3 separate regions of the Homo sapiens genome follow, and all the other regions are linked to region 3. Evidence: fine-mapped expression QTL. A gene starts in region 3. Each other region holds a variant in brackets. All regions are shown on one strand. Distances are between the middles of the regions. Region 1 has its middle 48 kb from the start of LINC02403. Region 2 has its middle 26 kb from the start of B4GALNT1. Region 3 holds the start of AVIL (advillin).

Region 1 (2,762 bases), 320 kb after region 3:
CTCATATTTGAAGAACATTTTTTATCATGGGAAAATAGAAGTTGAAAATAGTATAATGAAGCTCCACACGCTCATCTTAAATACCTATTAACATGTCATCATACTTGTTTTTATTTTTATTTTTTGGTTGAAGAACTTTAAAGCATATCCAGGAAAATCTGATACTTTTTGTGCTTAAATAGTTCAATACATTTACACATCTTTAAAAATAAGGACATTTTCTTCATAATCACTATACTACTGTAGAACCCAACAGTATTAGCAATATTTCTATAATATTATTTAACACCCAGCCCATACTTGGAATTTCTCCAAAGTGTCCTTTTTTTTTTTTTAACAGTTAGTTTGTTTTAATCAGAGTGCAAATAAGGTACACACATTTGATTGCCATGTCTCTTGACTCCTTTTGATTTATAAAGGTACTCTTACAGCCACCACTCCTTTTTAACACATGCCATCAACATGTTGAAGACTGGGTCATTTGTCGTGTAGAATACTTCTCATTTGGGATATGTTTGGTTGCTTCCAAATGATGTCATTTAACCTATCCTTCTTTCCCTTGTATTTCCCATGAATTGGAAGTTAGAGCTAGAGTCTTGATTAAGTTCAGATTCAACATTTTCAACAAGGATACTTCATAGCTAGAGCTGGGTACACCATATTACAACCTATCAGAAGCACATGCTGCTTTCTAGTTTTAGGGATGCTAAGAGTGATCATCTCGTACTTCTGTAATAAAGTTGCAGCCCCCCACCCCACACTGCCACCACTTACTTATGCTTATGTCAAATCAGTGGTTTGTCACTTTGGTACAGTTATTGTTATCCTTTCATCTAATTGTTTTTAGCAACTATTAAAGGTTGCTTAAGCAATTATTTCATTAGGGATTGCAAAACGGTGATTTTTTAATGCAGTAATTCTTGCTACATTTATTAGTTGAAATTCTTCTACAGAGTTTTTTTCTACCTAAACTAGAACTATTTGGTGTTCTGAAATACTTTTTTTTAAATAAGAAAGGCAAGATGAATTCTAAATTCATTCTCTTTAAAGAGATTTTCTTTTGTCTTTTAAAAAAAGATTCATCATGGATTTTTATATAGTCAGTGTATTCCAACCAATCACAATCATTATTCATTTTGATGCTCAAATTGTTCCATCTCTGGCCAGTTGAAGCCCCTTTAAGTTGCTTTCAAACACTTTTGAAGAGTCTCATTAAACTTTGATAGCTTCCTTACTTTCTGGAGCACAAAATGCTCCAAGCTCATCTTGTATGTTTCATGCCCCAGACCTGGAAACAGCTTTTTCTTTT[C/CT]TTTTTTTTTTTTTCTTTACTTTAAGTTCCGGGATACTCTGCAGAATGTGCAGGTTTGTTACATAGGTATACGTGTGCCATGGTGGTTTGCTGCACCTACTCAACCTGTCACCTAGGTCTTAAGCCCCACATGCATTAGCTATTGTCATGATTCTCTCCCTTCCACTGCCCCCTCAATAGGCCCTGGTGTGTGTTGTTCCCCTCCCTGTGTCCATGTGTTCTCAGTGTTCAACTCCCACTTATGAGTGAGAACAAGTGGTGTTTAGTTTTCTGTTCCTGTGTTAGTTTGCTGAGGATGATGGCTTCCAGCTTCATCCATGTCCCTGCAAAGGACATGATTTCATTTCTTTTTATGGCTACATAGTATTCCATATGTACCACATTTTCTTTATCCAGTCTGTGATTGATGGGCATTTGGGTTGGTTCCATGTCTTTGCTATTGTGAATAGTGCTGCAGTAAACGTATGTGTGCATGTATCTTTATAACTGAATGATTTATATTCCTTTGGGTATACACCCAGTAATGGTATTGCTGGGTCAAATGGTATTTCTGGTTCTAGATCCTTGAGGAATCACCACACTGTCTTCCACAATGGTTGAACTCATTTACATTCCCACCAACAGTGTAAAAGCGTTCCTATTTCTGCACAGCCTCGCCAGCATCTGTTGTTTCTTGACTTTTTAATGATCATAATGATCCTCATTGTGACTGGCATGAGATGGTATCTCATTGTGGTTTTGGTTTTCATTTCTCTAATGATCTGTGATATTGAGCCTTTTCTCAAATGTCTTCTTTTAAGAAGTGTCTGTTCATATCCTTTGGCCACTTTTTGATGGGGTTTTTTTTTCTTGTAAAATTGTTTAAGTTCCTTGTAGATTCTGAGTATTAGCCCTTTGTCAGATGGGTAGATTGCAAAAATTTTCTCCCATTCTGTAGGTTGCCTGTCCACTCTGATGATAGTTTCTTTTGCTGTGGAGAAGCTCTTTAGTTTAATTGGATCCCTTTGGCAATTTTAGCTTTTGTTGTAATTACTTTTGGTGATCTCATCATAAAATCTTTGCCCATGCCTATGTCCTGAATGGTATTACCTAGGTTTTCTTCTAGAGTTTTTATGGTTTTGGGTTTTACATTTAAGTCTTTAATCCATATTGAGTTAATTTTTGTATAAGGTATAAGGAAGGGATCCAGTTTCAGTTTTCTGCATATGGCTAGCCAATTTTCCCAGCATCATTTATTACACAGGCAATCCTTTCCCCATTGCTTGTTTTTGTCAGGTTTGTTGAAGATCAGATGCTTGCAGATGTGTGGTCTTATTTCTGAGGTCTCCATTCTGTTGCATTAGTCTATATGTCTGTTTTGGTACCAGTACCATGCTGTTTTGGTTACTGTAGCCTTGCAGTATAGTTTGAAGTCAGGTAGCATGATGCCTTCAACTTTGTTCTTTTTGCTTAG
Region 2 (2,762 bases), 160 kb before region 3:
CCCACTTGTGTCCACTGATCTCTCAGAGTGACTGGGGATCGTGAGTAAGCTTCCTCTTGGATTTCAGAGTTCCACAGACTTGTGTTTTGAGCTCTCCAAGTTCCTTTGAGCAAATATCTGGTTCAAACTAGGTTTGGAGTTGCAACAGAAACTGGACTGGGTCCAGGAATGGATTTGATCCAGTAATGAACTGGCTTGGATCCAATTAGAGGTGTCTTACATCTGAATGGGTCAGAAAGGAACTGGTAGTAAGCAGTAATATTTCAGGGATTATAAAATTTGGCTTTTGAAACTTCACAGGGATTTTTGTGTTCTACCCTTTTGCTTCATTTTTCTTGCATGCTTAGGTAGGAAAAATTATTGGCTAAGTTAAGAGAACCTGAGAGTAAAGCCAATATTTTAGGTAAAAATGGGATCCTTAATTTCTGGAAAACTGAGTTCCTTCTGGCTTATACTTTAGGCCTGGGAGGCAGCGAAGTCTTACAGAAATGGCAAAATCTTACTAAAGATAACTTACAGTGGAATGTTCTGAATGAACAGCAATGCATTGAAGTACATTTAAAAATGAAGACCCTTGACCAGGCGCAGTGGCTCATACCTGTAATCTCAGCACTTCGGGAGGCCAAGGCGGGCAGATCATGAGGTTAGGAGATCCAGACCATCCTGGCCAACAAGGTGAAACCCCGTCTCTACTAAAAATACAAAAATTAGCTGGGCATTGTGGTGTGTGCCTATAATCCCAGCTACTCAGGAGGCTGAGGCAGCAGAATCACTTGAACCAGGGAGTTGGAGATTGCAATGAGCCGAGATCGCAGTGGAGATTGGGCCACTGCACTCCAGCCTGGCAACAGAGTGAGACTCTGTCAAAAAAAAAAAAAAAAAAAAAAAGGCTCTCAGTAAAGTCCCTTTTGGCTAAGAACAAATTTGGCACTACAGGATGTCAACTGCTATTCTCTTTGGAATAATCTGCCTTGCACTCTTTGCTGATGACTATGGGTGACAGGATTAGGCATAGAGAGGGTCGTGGGACATGGGGAGTGTTTTCCTTCCCCAAAAGGGGAAACTTGAGAGCTGATGGGACTGTTGGAAAAAAAAATCCCTTCATGACAGCAGCTGCAGCCACCTGAGCTTTTCAATGTGGGTCTTTCTCTAGACTCCCTGAGCATTTTGCCTTCCCACCCCGCCACAGGCAATGCTTTCTCTCTCTCTCTCTCTCTCCTTTCCCTTTTTTATCTTTTCTGTTACTCAGGGCAACCATCTTGCCCAGAGACCACGTGTCTCTAGTTTAATCCAAACTCCTAGTCGGAGGTTGGATTAAAGATGAAGGGGCCCATGTGAGGGCAAATTTAAGGCTTATCAGTTTGATATTGGGTGATAAGAAGAGTGGCCAATGTCTATGTTTTATTACACATATTTTACTCTGGTCAGAACCAAAAAAGATAATTTTCCTTTATGATGCAGCTTGGCCCCCAGCGTGATGATGC[G/A]GCAAGCTGGGTCACTGGGGCCACTCAGGGAAAAGGAACCCAGAAGCCTGGCATGCTGGCAAAAGGGTAAGAATTTTTTTCTTTTTTTTTTTTGAGTCAAAGTCTCGCTCTTTTACAAGGGCAGTGGCATGATCTCAGCTCACTGCAACCTCTGCCTCCCAGGTTCAAGCGATTCTCCTGCCTCAGCCCCCCGAGTAGCTGGGAGTACAGGTGTGTGCCACCACACCTGGCTAATTTTTGTATTCGTAGCAGAGACGGGGTTTCACTATGTTGGCCAGGCTGGTCTTGAACTCCTGACCTCATGATCTGCCCGCCTCGGCCTCCCAAAGTGCTGAGATTACAGGCATGAGCCACCACACCCAGCCAAGGGTAAGAATTTCTTACCAGTCAGATTTCTGGTTTCTCTCTCTCTGTGCGAACAGTTGAATGAATGGTAAAAATCACTGTTTACTCCTCTGTAAAGTTGTGATTAATGCAAAAAAGAATTCTGAGGCCAGTCTCATACTGATGTATTTGTGCTATGAACTTGTTTTTCTGTGTTGAGGGGTACCTTAGGATAAAACGTGGGCTTAGGGCCCCATAAACTCGCTGCCCAAGATGACCCAGCAAGCTGGTTGATAACAAACTTTCCTGCCTGTCCCTGAAACAAACAAACAAACTACTGGATGGGGTCTCCATCTTGTTTTATGTCCTTGGGTGCTTGACCTTATAACCATGTGGCAGTACTTTCTCTTGGTCTCTGCCTTCCAGGGAACAGGAATTTTAGGGTTTATGTCATAGGTTGCTCTAAAAATTATCTTGAGTAGATAAAAGGCTTTGCAAGCTCAAAATTAACTACTCTAGACTTCTTCTGGGAAGGGCAGCAGAGACTACCCTGTTCTGTAGCTCAATAGCTAGTGTTTTGGCATTTCACGCTGGCAGTCCAGGTTTGATTCCCTCTTTAGGAAGTAAGTCATTTCTGGTTTAATATCTGCATAACTTTGTCTAGTCTCTTCTCCATGGACTATCTTAAATTTTCCTTTCTCTGGCCTAGTGTGGTGGCTCATGCCTGTAATCCCAGCACTTTGGGAGGCCAAGGCAGGTGGATCACGAGGTCAGGAGTTTGAGGCCATCCTGACCAACATGGTGAAACCTCATCTCTACTAAAAATACAAAAATTAGCTGGGCATGGTGGCACACAGCAGTAGTCCCAGCTACTCAGGAGGGTGAGGCAGGAGAATCGCTTGAACCCAGGAGGCAGAGGTTGCAGCCAAGATCGCTCCACTGCACTGCAGCCTG
Region 3 (2,762 bases):
GGAAAAAGGATGGGGTTGATGGATTTATGTAAGATTTAAAAATTCACCCAGAAAGGACTGTATGCATTTTTGCTGTTTGGGGACATACTGTTTGTTAAGAGGAACATGTCTGACCATTGTTTTCTTGAACCTTGATGGACAAAGCCAAGTTTGGAGAGCATGCGCCATCTAGTATGGACTTTGGCAAAAAACCATAAAGCTCAAAGCAGACTCGCTTTGTCTACTGCTGTAGCAGGACTAAAGCAAGGCAATGGTGCGGAGCAGCCAGTGTTTGAGAATTTAATTTGATAACTTGTGCTGCCCCACCCTGTGCTGCTCAGAATTGCCAGGAAATATGGTGTTTGGGTTTTCTTCAGACCCTACGTAGCAGTCATTAAAGGCAAAAGCCATGAGCCAACTAGGGGAAGGGGACAAGGGCCACTGAATTCATTCCTTGGAGACAGAGAACTGTCACCCTGGTAAAAGCCAAACCAGCCGGCAGCAATTAGGACTGTGAGCCTCAGAGGCTGAAACCTGTCCCGTTTCCCAGCAGGAATTTAGGAATCAAGGAGCTCCCTGGGCCAGGCACCCCGAATGCGAGAGGATAAGCTCCAGGAAGGGACTTCCTGTCACACTGGAACACACAGAAAACACAGTTCTGACATCAAATCTCCCAAAGCTGGGTCTCTCCTTCTCCCTAAATCCTAATTCAGTATCCTTTGAGAGGACTGCAGAAACCCCTTGGGTGTGGGGCACAGTTTTGAAATGTCAGGTTAAAAGCCAGTGGCCTGTAATTCTCAGAGATGCCCTTTTGGACGGACCCTGAGCAGAGGAAGCTGTTTTTTGTTGTTGTTGTTTTTGAGACAGGGTCTTGCTCTGTCACCCAGGCTGGAGTGCAGTGGTACAATCACGGCTCACTGCAACCGCCACCTCCTGGGCTCAAGTGATCCTTCTGCCTCAGCCTCCTGAGAAGCTGAGACCACAGGTGTGCACCACCATGCTTGGCTTTTTTTTTTTTTTTTTTTTTTTTTTTTTTTGTAGAGACAGGGTCTCACTATGTTGCCCAGGATGGTCACAAGTTACAAACTCCTGGGCTCAAACAATCCTCATGCCCTGGCTTCCCAAAGTGTTGGGATTACAGGTGTAAGCCACCTCTCTGGGCCAGGAAGCTGGTTTTAACTCCTCCTGCCTTGCTCCATACCATCTTTCTCTAGGGATAGGTGAAAGGGGTCTGTCTTTCCCAGCTTTTGAAAATGTGCCCTATATGTTCAGCTGCCTCTAAGGGGTTCTTCTGAACAAGAAGTTTGCAAAACTGGCCAGCCAGACTCCTGGTTCATTTTAAAAGCCTCATCTCAGAAGACAAAGCCAAGGGACTCTCAAGCTCCTCTTCCTTTCATTTCTTCCTCATTCAGGAGGATTAACTGGCATGCCCCCGTAAATCAGAGACCTTACCTTGCCTTCTCGCTCACCAGCCTTCCCAGTTTCCCGGCGCGTAAGCAGCAGCAGTATTGAAGAACCACTCCAAAGCAGGAGGCTCCAGGTCCTGCTGCCTTAGCTTAGTAATGGCCGCAGAGATACTGGGTTATATTTGCTTGTGTTTGCATCTTAACCGCATTTTCCTAGTCCTGGCCAATCAGAGCCAACCTAGCACTGAGCTTGGCTTATTCAAACCAGAGGGAAAGCTTTATCTGTGCCTATTCAAAACAGCAAAACAGAAGAGCAGACTTTTAAAGGCTTCTTTGAACTCCAGCTCCACGCCCTGATCTAATTGATTTTTTAAAAAGTGCACACAGCCCATCAATAATGCAGGAAAGAGGTTGGAAGGATATGAAATTTGCCATATTGTAGATATGGATGCATTATGGTGATGACAGGAGGAAGAGGCTGGAGCTGCCCCATGAGTGCCTGTGATGTCTAGGTTGGCAAGAGCCTCCCTAAGAAGCTTCTGGCATTTCTCAAAGGGAGGGGAAGTCTGGGAGAGGAGCCAGAATTTTATTAGGCCACAGTTTTGCTCGTTGGGGTCTCTACTAGTCATACAGTAAACCAATCAATATTTGAGTGCCTGCTGTTTGCCAGGAACCATGCTGGGCTCTCAGCTTCAGGGTTTCCAGTTTGGAAGAATCAGTGAGGGGCAGAGAAGAATCAAGACTCCATTCCCAGGGCTGGGTGTGGTGGTGGCTCACGCCTGTAATCCCAGCACTTTGGGAGGCTGAGGTGGGTGGATCACAATGTGAGGAGTTTGAAAACAGCCTGGCCAAGATGGTGAAACCCCATCTCTACTAAAAATACAAAAATGAGCCGGGCGTGCTGGCAGGCGCCTGTAATCCCAGCTACTCAGGAGACTGAGGCAGGAGAATCGCTTGAACCTGGGAGGTGGAGGTTGCAGTGAGCTGAGATCATGCCACTGCCTCTAGCCTGGGCAACAGAGCAAGACTCCATTTCAAAAAAAAAAAAAAAAATAATAATCCATTCCCTTAGGGCTTCTGGTTCATGCCCAGAAGTCAATAGGACATCAAGCATATACACGTGCTAAGCACCTGACTGCAATGGGGTTGATCACAGCAGAACTTGTGTAACCTTGAGCGGAAGCCCTGTGTGGCATCTGCAGCTGGCCTCCCGGTGGGTGCAACACCCCACTCAGCCCGGGGGTGCAGCTGCTTCATGATGGAAGGGGTTGCGAGAAGAAAGGCGGTGCTTGCCATGGGCCCAGTGAACACTTAAGGGCCAATGAAGGTTGGTGGCAGCTCACATTCCTGGAAAGGTTTTTTAAACCCACTTTTATT

What was found. PIP is the estimated chance that this variant, and not a neighbour inherited with it, causes the effect. A credible set is the group of variants that fine-mapping cannot tell apart.
Region 1: its variant is the best candidate, but not a certain one, in a credible set for the expression of AVIL in whole blood (INTERVAL, PIP 0.67).
Region 2: its variant is the best candidate, but not a certain one, in a credible set for the expression of AVIL in blood mononuclear cells (TOPMed, PIP 0.59).

Annotation. Positions count from the first base shown.
Region 1 is chr12:58,134,703-58,137,464 of GRCh38, forward strand. No RefSeq gene overlaps it. Among named protein-coding and RNA genes, the nearest start is that of LINC02403, 48 kb to the left of the region's middle. The variant C/CT (reference allele first, on the strand shown) is at 1,310.
Region 2 is chr12:57,657,855-57,660,616 of GRCh38, forward strand. No RefSeq gene overlaps it. Among named protein-coding and RNA genes, the nearest start is that of B4GALNT1, 26 kb to the left of the region's middle. The variant G/A (reference allele first, on the strand shown) is at 1,485.
Region 3 is chr12:57,817,198-57,819,959 of GRCh38, forward strand. It overlaps AVIL (advillin), which reads right to left and starts at 1,537. Exons shown (of 20, transcript NM_006576.4): 1 at 1,432-1,537. CTDSP2 (CTD small phosphatase 2) reads right to left here. Exons shown (of 8, transcript NM_005730.4): 8 at 2,730-2,762.